Linked DNA regions of Homo sapiens: region 2 is linked to region 1. A link means that fine-mapping ties the variant in region 1 to the expression of a gene that starts in the linked region. Tissue or cell type: whole blood. Region 1 holds a variant in brackets; the other region holds the start of a gene. All regions are shown on one strand. Distances are from middle to middle.

Evidence for each region. PIP is the estimated chance that this variant, and not a neighbour inherited with it, causes the effect.
Region 2: KIN starts here. The variant in region 1 is fine-mapped to the expression of KIN in whole blood (INTERVAL, PIP above 0.99).

What each region holds. Positions count from the first base shown.
Region 1 is chr10:7,756,621-7,762,358 of GRCh38, reverse strand. It overlaps KIN (Kin17 DNA and RNA binding protein), which reads left to right. Exons shown (of 13, transcript NM_012311.4): 12 at 2,369-2,469. Among named protein-coding and RNA genes, the nearest start is that of KIN, 29 kb to the left of the region's middle. The variant TG/G (reference allele first, on the strand shown) is at 3,683.
Region 2 is chr10:7,785,958-7,790,957 of GRCh38, reverse strand. It overlaps KIN (Kin17 DNA and RNA binding protein), which reads left to right and starts at 2,965. Exons shown (of 13, transcript NM_012311.4): 1 at 2,965-3,138. The coding sequence starts at 3,025. ATP5F1C (ATP synthase F1 subunit gamma) reads right to left here and starts at 2,781. Exons shown (of 10, transcript NM_001001973.3): 1 at 2,695-2,781. The coding sequence starts at 2,750. RefSeq lists enhancers at 1,697-2,240, 2,693-3,012.

The sequences.
Region 1 (5,738 bases):
TTCTGTCTTGGCGGCATTAACTGCCAGCGTAACTCATCTCTGTTTGGATTCAAGGGCATCGTAGTTTACTGGCTCTCTGATGAAGCTGTTTTGTGGCATCAATGGATTTTCCTTTCCTGGAATACTTTTTTTTTTTTTTCCTGAAGCAAAACGTAGACATATATGGATAGCATTTGTTATATTAGGCTTATGGTTATAGGTTGAGAATCTCTCATCTGAAATGCCTGGACCAGAAGAGTTTCCAATTTTGGATTTTGGAATTTGCATATACATAATTGGATATCTTAGGGTTGGAACCCATGTCTTAACACAAAATTGATTTATGTTTTATTTTATTTTTATTTATTTATTTATTTTTGAGACACAGTTTCACTCTGTCACCCAGGCTGGAGTGTGGCGGCACGATCTTGACTTACTGCAACCTCCATCTCCCAGGTCAAGCAATTCTCCTGCCTTAGCCTCCCAAGTAGCTGGGATTACAGGCATGCATCACCACATCTGGCTAATTTTTGTATTTTTAGTAAAGACGGGGCTTCACTGTGTTGGCCAGGCTGGTCTCAGACTCTTGACCTCAAGTGATCCACCCACTTCAGCCTCCCAAAGGGCTGGAATTACAGGCCTGAGCCACCATACTCATCCTCATTTATGTTTTATATACACCTTACACACATAGCCTGAAGGTAATTTTATACAATATTTTAAATAATTTTGATTGCATCTTGACAGTGGCCTGTCACAGGAGGTCAGGTGTGGAATTTCCCACTTGTGGCATGATGTCAGCACTCAAAAGATTTTACATTTTGGAGCTTTTCAAATTTTCAGATTAGGAATGTTCAATCTGTGATGTATTTGTTTAGCTCTCTGCGATAGTCAAGTGAAAGTCTGTGTTATTTTGCTTTTTTTCCCCTTAGGTGTCTTTGCCTTTTGGAAACTTATCCGTATCTGAGTACAAACACTACTTTGACCAGGTTGTTTACCTCTGACTCAAAATCTTCCTGGGGGTGTCATTGCCAATGTAGTGATAACATCAGTCTCTGGAACTTCTTATTATCATATTCTTTATTCTTTTTCCCCCTAAAGTAAAAATTCTTTTTACAGATTAGAAAAATTTATGTTAGCTTTATTGTGGTAAAATTGATGTACAATAAATCACACATATGTAAAGTATACAATTTGGTAAGTTTCAACATGTGCCTACTTCCATAAAACCATCACTACAATCTAGCTGATGAATAGATCCTCTCATTTCCCTCTCTAATCCCTCCCTCCTACCTTCTGCTCCTGCATCCTCTGTCTTCCTCGACATCTGCTGACATGCTTTCTGTCATAGTTCAGTTCATATTTTTCTAGAATTTTATATAAATTAAGTTTCTATAAATATAAATGTGTCCTGTTTTCTGGTCTGGCTACTTTCACTCAGTGTAATTATTTTGGATTCACCTATGTGGTGGAACGTATCTGTAGTTCATTCTTTTTTCTTGCTGTATGTCATTGTATGGATATGCAGTATTCCCCCTTAACCTATACCTTCCAAGACCACCAGTGAATGCCTGAAACCATGGATAGTACCAAACACTATATATACTATGTTTTTTCCTACATACATATCTATAATAAAGTTTAACTTATGAATTAGGCACAGTAAAAGATTGAGAATAATAACTAATAATAAAATAGAGCAATTATAATAATATAGTATGATAAAAGTTATGTGAATGTGGTCTCTTTCTCTCAAAATATTTTATTGTACTTTACACACCTATTTTTGGACCACGCTGACTGAGAGTAACCAAAACCTGGGATAAGGGGGGACTACTGTACCAGTTTGTTTATCCAGTTATCTGTTGATAGACATTTGGCTTATTTACAGCTTTTGGCTGTTAAAAATAAAACTGCTGTGAACATATACGTACAAAGCTTTGTGTGGATATCTGGTTTCTTTTTTCTTGGGTAAATACATAGAATGGCTCAGTCACATGTTAGGTATAAGTTTAAATTTTTGTAAAACTGCCAAACCATCTTATGAATTTTGCAAAGAGACAAAGTAAGCTAAATTGTCTCTGATTACTTCTGGACTCTGAACATTTTCTCCAAGTACCTTATATTCTTTGCAGTCTAAAAGTAAAACATACATATTCCTTTAACAAATAATTGGGGGAAAAATGAGAAGTCTTATAATGTTCGAGTAGTGAAAGTATCCATACACCGCACTAAAATACTACACACTTCTTAAATGATTGAGAACTTCTAAGAAAAAGGGTTTTGTTTTTTATTATGTTTATTCAGTGTAGTACATTTTGCTGTAACAAGTTAGAAGAAAAGTGGAGATATTTCTTCACATTAATTTTTATATTCTTTTCCATCATAGGAAAAAGAATTCTAGTTTTAAATGGAGGCTACAGAGGAAATGAAGGTACCCTAGAATCCATCAATGAGAAGACTTTTTCAGCTACTATCGTCATTGAAACTGTAAGTTTGTTTACACAAAGACAGAAATTTCAAAATGCTTTAAAAATGTGCCATAGTTTTTTTTAATTGGATTGTTCTTTATTTTAGAATTTGAGTTTTTTGTTAGCCTTCTATCCTATTTGGAAATCTGTAAGCTTATTTTCTCCAGTGACTCTGCCATTGCTAAAGTATTTTATTTTCTGATTATAAAAGAAATGTGTACTCATGCATAAAACCCCAAAAAACATAATTTAATATAAATAATTATAAAAATTAATCATAGTCCCCCAGCCCAACAATAAACCCCATTAATATTTTGGTCTGTTCCTTTCCAATCTTGGTGTTTTATGAAAGTGTGTGTAATAGGTACAGTTTTATATCCTTTTTTCCCCTCATATCGAATATAAAACTCAATTTGGCATAGTAAAGTTAGTGGGGGAAGTAAAGTCATTGTCAAGAGGGAGGGAACCACAGAGGTCAACCACTTTTTAAAATGTCTCCCCTTTTTTCATAAAGGATTTAAGGTAGCAGAGATCAATACAGTAATTTAAAGAACTCTGACTTATAAATAAAGTTGGTTATTGACTTAGAACTGATATTTCACTCACAGGTCTGTGAGTGAGGTCTGAGATATCTTCAGAAAGAAAGTTTCCTTTTAGAACTCTGAACTACTGCACTGCATATCTTTGATGCTAAACAAAAGAATTTTTTATCTCCAGTACAGTCAGTTTTAGTATTTCTGGGGGAGCTTGGGAGTAATAGCTCACTTAGAGAGTTTAATGAAAGTTTAGACTCTTCAAAACATTGCACATAATTGCCAAATTTTATTTGTTCTCTTGGGGAGTTTATAGGCCCCCTAAGCCCATGGACCTGTTAGAGAATATGTGTCTAGGAAGGTTTTCTGGAAAAACCATTTAGGTCCTTATTTGAGAGAATTCTCATTTCAGTAAATCAAGCTTTTCTCCTTTTTTTTTTTCTTTCTGATCCTGACAATGCTAACCTAGAAGCTGTTACTTGCTAACTGTTACTAACGTAAACTAAGGGGAAGAAAGGGAAAAAGGACTCCTACTTGGCATTGAGGAACATGTCAGTCTGACTAAATTAGCAGATTGAGTTTTAACAAAAAACTCTATAAGATTTTCTCTGACTCTATCAGCATAAGGCAGTAGAAAATCCAGTATTTCCTTGACAACTTGCTTATCCTTCCCTTATTAATTTCTTTTTTTTTTTTTTT[TG/G]CATGGACCATGCATGAAACTTACCTTATTAATTTCATAGTGCTATCAAATGCAGATCCTGTTTCATGTTTTCATCTCAGGGAAACACAAAACAACTGATTACTGTTGAGGCTGTGTTGAGTTCCATCTCGATACCTTTGGTTCGCAGGTTGTGTCCATTCATCAAAAACTAATTTCTCACCTTCTGCACTGTAGACCCAGTTTCATCTTCTGTACTGAGGTAGAACTTAGCAGCAAATCCACATGAAAAGCCTTTCTGTTTGATTGCAAAGCAACATGTACTTCTTTTAGAAGAGGGAATCTACCAGCTTGGCATGGTGGCTCATGCCTGTAATTCCAGCACTTTGGGAGGCTGAGGCGGACGAATCACCTGAGGTCAGGAGTTCGAGACCAGCCCGGCCAACATGGAGAAACCCCATCTCCACTAAAAATACAAAAATTAGCTGGGCGCGGTGGCAAATGCCTGAAGTCCCAGCTCGGGAGACTGAGGCAGGAGAATCGCTTGAACCTGGGAGGCAGAGATTGCAGTGAGCCAAGATTGCGCCACTTACTCCGGCCTGGGTGACAGCGAGACTCCGTCTCAAAAAAAAAAAAAAAGGGAATCTGTCTCCTAATTTTTTTTTCTTCCTTTCTTCAGCCTGTCCTCATTAAAAAAAAAAAAAAAATCTCTGTATATGCTTGTGTCATCACTTGAGCTTTGCAAGTGGTTATTTTTATCATTTCTGGCACCTTAAGTTTTCATGTCGTTGATAATATTTGAAATTTATACATATATCAAGCAGATTTTTAACATCCAATAAATTGTTCCTAAATAGCTTCAGCTTTTTAGCTATTTGCCCTATAAGCCCAAATGTCTGGCTCCCTTCTTATTCTCCAGATTTATGGTACTTATCAGAAAAATGTAATTGACCATAGACCATTAAACATGATAATGAAAAATCTAACCTAGGTTATACTTTATCTGGGAACTTAATTCCTTTAAATATGATAATTATTTGTTGTGAAGGGAAGCAGTAAAAAAATGTTAAAATCTCAGTTCTAGGGTTAGAGTCATCATCATTGTCATCATCATTATTGTCATCATCATCATGTTATATTTTGCAAGGGAGAGGATTAACTGTCAAATTTAATTTTAATTTTATTTAATTTAATTTTATTTTATTTTATTATTTATTTTCAAGACAGAGTCTCACTCTGTCGCCCAGGCTGGAGTGCAATGGCGCGATCTCAGCTCACTGCAACCTCTGCCTCCGGGTTCAAGAAATTCTTCTGCTCCAGCCTCCCAAGTAGCTGGGATTACAGGTGTGTGCCACCATGCCCAGCTAATTTTTATATTTTTAGTAGAGATAGGGTTTCACTATGTTGGTCAGGCTGGTCTCAAACTCCTGACCTCAGGTGATCCACCTGCCTCGGCCTCCCAAAGTGCTGGGATTACAGATGTGAGCACTGCGCCCGACCCAACTCTCAAATTTTAAACAAAAGATTAAATAATAATTAGAGTTGAAAATTATTGAGCTCTCACTCATATTAAGTTCCAGGTCTAGTCACTTTATATGAAATAACTCATTTATATTTCCCAACAACCCAATCATACAGACATTACCATTATTTCCACTGGGAGATAATAAGGCACAGAGAGGAAACTGAAGGACAGAGAGGTTAAATCAATTGTTGAAAGTGAGATTTGAACTTGGGGAGTGTAGGTTCACAGCCCATATTCTTAGCCTCTGTGTTCCCAGGTTATATCCGCTTTTGTGATAGAAAATATCTTTCATTAATTAAGTTTTCCTCTTTCCCTTTTTGTTCGATATGAAAGAAGAAAATAAAGTTAAAGTTGGACTCTTTTTATAATCTGGACCAGTGTAACTATCACAGCCAACCTAGACAAACATGTTTGAGTATCGTAATGCTTACAAAATGATATTTCCTATAAAAAAAAGAAAACCCCAAATGGACAATGGCACAAACATGGTAGAAGTTAACGTTTCACTCTAAAAACCCCAAATGGGTATTTTTGATCAGGGAACTCTTTCTAAGTGGCGATTTGTGAACCCA
Region 2 (5,000 bases), 29 kb before region 1:
TAGAAACTGTACTTAAAAACTCTTCATTTCTCTACTGATATACAGCATTTGGATCCCTATCAGCATTTCCCCCATTGTCCTACATGCTTTGCAAATACTCTAATCCTCACACTAACCCACTGAATTGTGCACTTTTATTGCATATATTTGACAGATGAGGAACTGGTGGGACAGACACTGAGTAACCTGCCCAAGGTCACAGAGCTGCTAAGTGGCAATCAGAATTCAATCCCTGCCGTCTGAATGCAGCCCTTCAGGGCTGGCTACAGAGTCTCTCTCTTCATACAGTACTACACTCTGCTGCCTCACATTTTTTACATTTATTAGTAAATATCTGCCCTCATGGTCTCAGATGACAATTTGTCTTTTCTCTCCTGAAATGCCATCTCCTTATCGGTATCTGTAGTTTATGACTACTGACACGTTATTAAAAAACAGTTCCATTTTAGAGACTACTGAACTCTAAGAAATAGAAATGTTTTTCCCAAATTTGAAGACAGTAAAATCCGGGATTCTTTCTCTCAAATTTTTAATTTCCATTTTCTTATATGCTGCTTTAAAAAAAAGGTTTAATTTTCAAAACGTTAGAGTATTTTGCCGATACCCTAACAACTATTAAAATAACCACTGTGAATTTAAGTAAGCCTAATGTTTTTATGTTAGCATGGTAGCCTCTCTGAAAACAAAAACTAAAATAACAAATTGTACTTTAAAAAACTTCCAGTAATCAAGACAGAAGCATGGAAATATGCCTCTTCATGGTTCGTTAAGACAAAGGTCTTTTCTTCCCCTTCCAAATTAATTCTGTGGAGTGGTTTTAATTTCTGAATTCAAAAGGCAATTATAATTCATGGAAAGAGAAATGGCAGAAGAGGAAGGAAAGACATTAAGCACCAGCAGTGAAGGAATACATGAAAAGAAGAAGACAGAATATGCTTTCATAGTGGAACACTGTTGATTGATGATTTATAAAACCAATATTCCAAAGGGATTAAGGTCAGGATTAGGACCTTTATATGCTGATTGTGGTTCCGATTTAAGCTCCTAACAGTAGTTGTCTTGAACTGAGAGCTCTTATTTAAAACAATCCTTCACTAAAAGAGCTTCAAATTATCTTACAGGTGCTTTAAAAAAAGATATTTCTAAAATTTTTTGTAAAATATTGTCTTTGTTTCAGAAACTATTTCCACTTTTTTAAAGATCAACTTAGAAACTAAGGTTGTAAAAATACTGACAGATAACATTAATGCGTGGCAAGAAGGTAAGGCCAGGAGAGCTGATGTTCGCAGAGCACCACTGCATGCCAGGCACTGTCCCAGGAAACTGACTGAGACCTTATCTATTTGCTCACCATCACATTTGGGCACTTTCCAAGTACCACCGGGTGGAGTGGAAGCACTCAGCTAATGTCTGCTGAGTGGTTAACAAGTGGGACAATCTATACAACTGAGAATTCAACTACAGTGACCTTTTAATTCCCATGAATGTTCTTTTTCCATATTAGAGAAAAAAAAATCTGACTTCCAAGGCCAAGCCACCAAAAATTTTATGTGGCTAATTCACATCAGATATCATTCTGAAAATCTCGTATATTACTATCAGTTATTTGCTTAATGAAAAACCTATTTATTTCAACTAATGCTTTATGGTCCCTTCATATAAATTAGGATACGAAAATCTAGTTTAGCACTGTAGCGCCTTAGAAATCCTCCACACTGTTAAGAGCAGGGAATTGCTACGACACAGCCTAGAATCCCCTTAGCAGCGTGTCTGGAATTCTTCCAGATTCCGTCAAGCTTCAAAACTGAACAGCACCACCCACAAACCAACTTTTACCTGCCCATTCCCGGGCCTTCTAATATGCACTTCCCCCAGCCCAGGTCCCCCTACCCGGAACTAATGTTTAAAATTCTCGAGGCTCGTGGCACCCTTTAGTTGCATGTCAGTTAACAAATGCCACTTAAAAGCCCACCGAACTCCTCCCCCAGGACCTGGGGGCAATTTCATGACCTTGCAGGGTTACGGTTTCAGCAAGTGGTTTCAAGGTAGTGCTAGGTGTCCTTCCCTTCCCCGCCCTCAGACAGATCTGTACGGTCCCTTCTGCACCAAAACCACCCTCAGAGGCATCTAGGATGTTCGCCTTTGCTGTTGCAGCACCCAGCAAAGCGTCTGCAACACGGGAGGTGCTCGACGGCCGCGCTCTCTGACTCGATCGAATCTTAAAGGGTCACTCTGTCCAGCACTACAGGGTTTCAAAGGGCGTCAAGGACAAAAAGCACGACTTAACCTTCCCCTGGGCTATTGCTCAGGCTCCCGTCACCTTGCAGGCCCTGAGACTGGGGGCCTGGCTTGCAGTGGAAGTGGAAGCTCAGGAAGTGCTGATTAGCTGAGGGAACTCAAGACCGCCCAGACGTCAATTTGGACTCAGGCCGCAGTCCCGAGGTCCCAGGTGGCCCTCCGACCTCAGGGAACCGGGCGGGACCTTGCTCCGCCGGAGCCCGGCCCTGCGCACACCTTGCCCGACCTCAGAGCCGCTTCCTGCAGCCCCCGCTACCCGGCGCCTCCGACGGGCCAGGGGCCCAGCTAGGCCCTGCGACCCCACATCTGCCCCCGCGCCCATCTCCTCCTCCCTGCCCCGTGCCCAAGCTCTTCCATCCCTTGCGGTCCTGCCGATCTTCCCGCAAGCTGCCATACCATTGCGGCTGCAAGGTCCAGGCCGACAGCCCAGCGACACCCGCGCGAGAGAACATGGTAGCCACAGCCCTGCTGAAGGTCGGTCAGGCAGGCCTCAGCGCGCATGCGCCGAAGCTCCCCAGCGCGCCCCTCCCACCTTGCTCTCTTCTTCAGTCTCGTTTCTTCGCGCTACGGCGAGGGGAGTCTCGCGACCGTTGCAACCCAGTCTTCCCAGGCCCCACCTCCTTCCGCCTCTCAGCTGGGATTTGTCCCGCCCACCGCCGCCAGCCCGGTTCCGTTTCCGGCTGGCTGAGTACTGGGGTCCAGAAAGTGATCGCTGCCGTGGTCGCCATGGGGAAGTCGGATTTTCTTACTCCCAAGGCTATCGCCAACAGGATCAAGTCCAAGGGGCTGCAGAAGCTACGCTGGTATTGCCAGATGTGCCAGAAGCAGTGCCGGGACGAGGTGAGTGGGCCCGGAGTGGCCCCGTCTTCCCAGGAGGGCCCCTGGCAATCCAGGATCAGGTCCTGGACGCGGGGCTGAGGGCGCGGGGCTGGGGCTCCCGGGGTCCGGGTCGTGAGGCTTCTGAGGTCTGCAGTGGGCGAGTCAACTACTCAGCGCACGAGAGCCGTCCCTCCCCGCAGCCCCCGGGCCCAGCGGGCAGCCTGTGTTCTGCGACCCCTCATTCCTCCCCAGTCCGATCCCCACCACCAAAGAAATGAAATCAGAAAAGGTTTTGCACCCCTCACAGGGGCGGGGATACTGCAATACTAGACGCCCGGGCAATGCCAGTAACAGTCATCAGCTCTTACTTGACTTGACTCTTAAGAGAAACAGGGTGGTTAGGATTCACTCCTCTTTTGGGATCAGGTGAAAAAGGAGAGCTAAGCTCTTCCACACTACTCATCTAGCAAGCATTTATTGAGCACCTACACTGTACCGGGCACAGAATAATATTGTGGTTAAAATTATGGATTTATCTGGTTTATGGATATATCAGACTGTCAAAATTTAAAGTCAAGCAGGGCCACTTACCAACCGTGTGGTCTTGGGCAAGTTATTTACTTATATTCCCCTTTACTTATCTGTAAAGAGGGAATAATAATTTCACCTACTTGTAGGATTGTCGCTGAGTTTTAAATGAGTGAAGTATATATAGAGTGGCTCAAGGAGTCTGGGCAGATCTCGAAAAGCCTTATATGGCTACACTATGGAATTTACACTTTTCCCCATTAAAGAGGTGGTTGATTGAATGCTGTGCAGGCTAGTGATGTGATCATATTTTTCTCCGGAGATTGGACTGGATTGGGTAAGGGTGGAAGAACACTGAGGCAATTGGAATAATCTAATCCAGTGTTTCTGCAAGTGAAGGAAGAGGTATTTTAGGTAGGACTCATACTAATATTGATACAGTTACTCTCTTTAGTTCTATTAAGGAATACCTGTATATGCATTATCTAATGTCTTAGTCTGCTTGGACTGCCATATAAAGTGCAGTAGACTGGGTGGTTTAAATGACAGAAATTTATTTCTCACAGTTCTGGAGGCTGGGAAGTTCAAGATCAAGGTGCTGGCATGGTCAGATTCTAGTGAGGGTCCTCTTCTTGGTTTGCGAAACTGCCTCTATCCTCACAAAGCAGATAGAGCAAGCTCTAATAGAAACTTCTCTTCCTCTTTTTTTTTTTGAGATACGGTCCCACCCTGTTCATCATGCAGGCTCTACCCTTGTGACCTCATCTAAATCCAGTCATCTCCAAAGGCCCACCTTTTAATTCCATTCCCTTGGGGGTTAGGGTTCAATATATGAACTTTGAGGGGACGCAGACATGCAGTCTGTAACACCCAGACTTAACACTTTAAGTAATTTTGCCGTATTTACTTTTTAAAAAATATTTTAAGGTAAATACCAATATCAGGATATTTCACCTTTAAATACTTAAATAGGCATCTCTAAAATTTCAGGATACTTTTCTATATAACCATAGTATATGTCATCAACATAACACAATTAATAGAAGTTCCTCTTTATCATCTAATACACATTCACACTTCCTCAGTTGTCCTCCAACTGCTCCTTGAAATCAAGATTCGATCAAAAGCAATAGACTGTTATAGGTTTGGTTATTAGGACCTCCGCTCCCCTCTCCAGTCTCCCTCATCATCAACATCCTGCAACGAGGTGTTATATTTGTTACCATGGATGAAACTACATTGACACATCAGTATCATCCAGAATCCATAGTTTACATTAGGGTTCACTCTTGGTGTTGTACATCCTATGGGTTTTGACAAATGCATAATGATACGTATTCACCATTATAAAATCT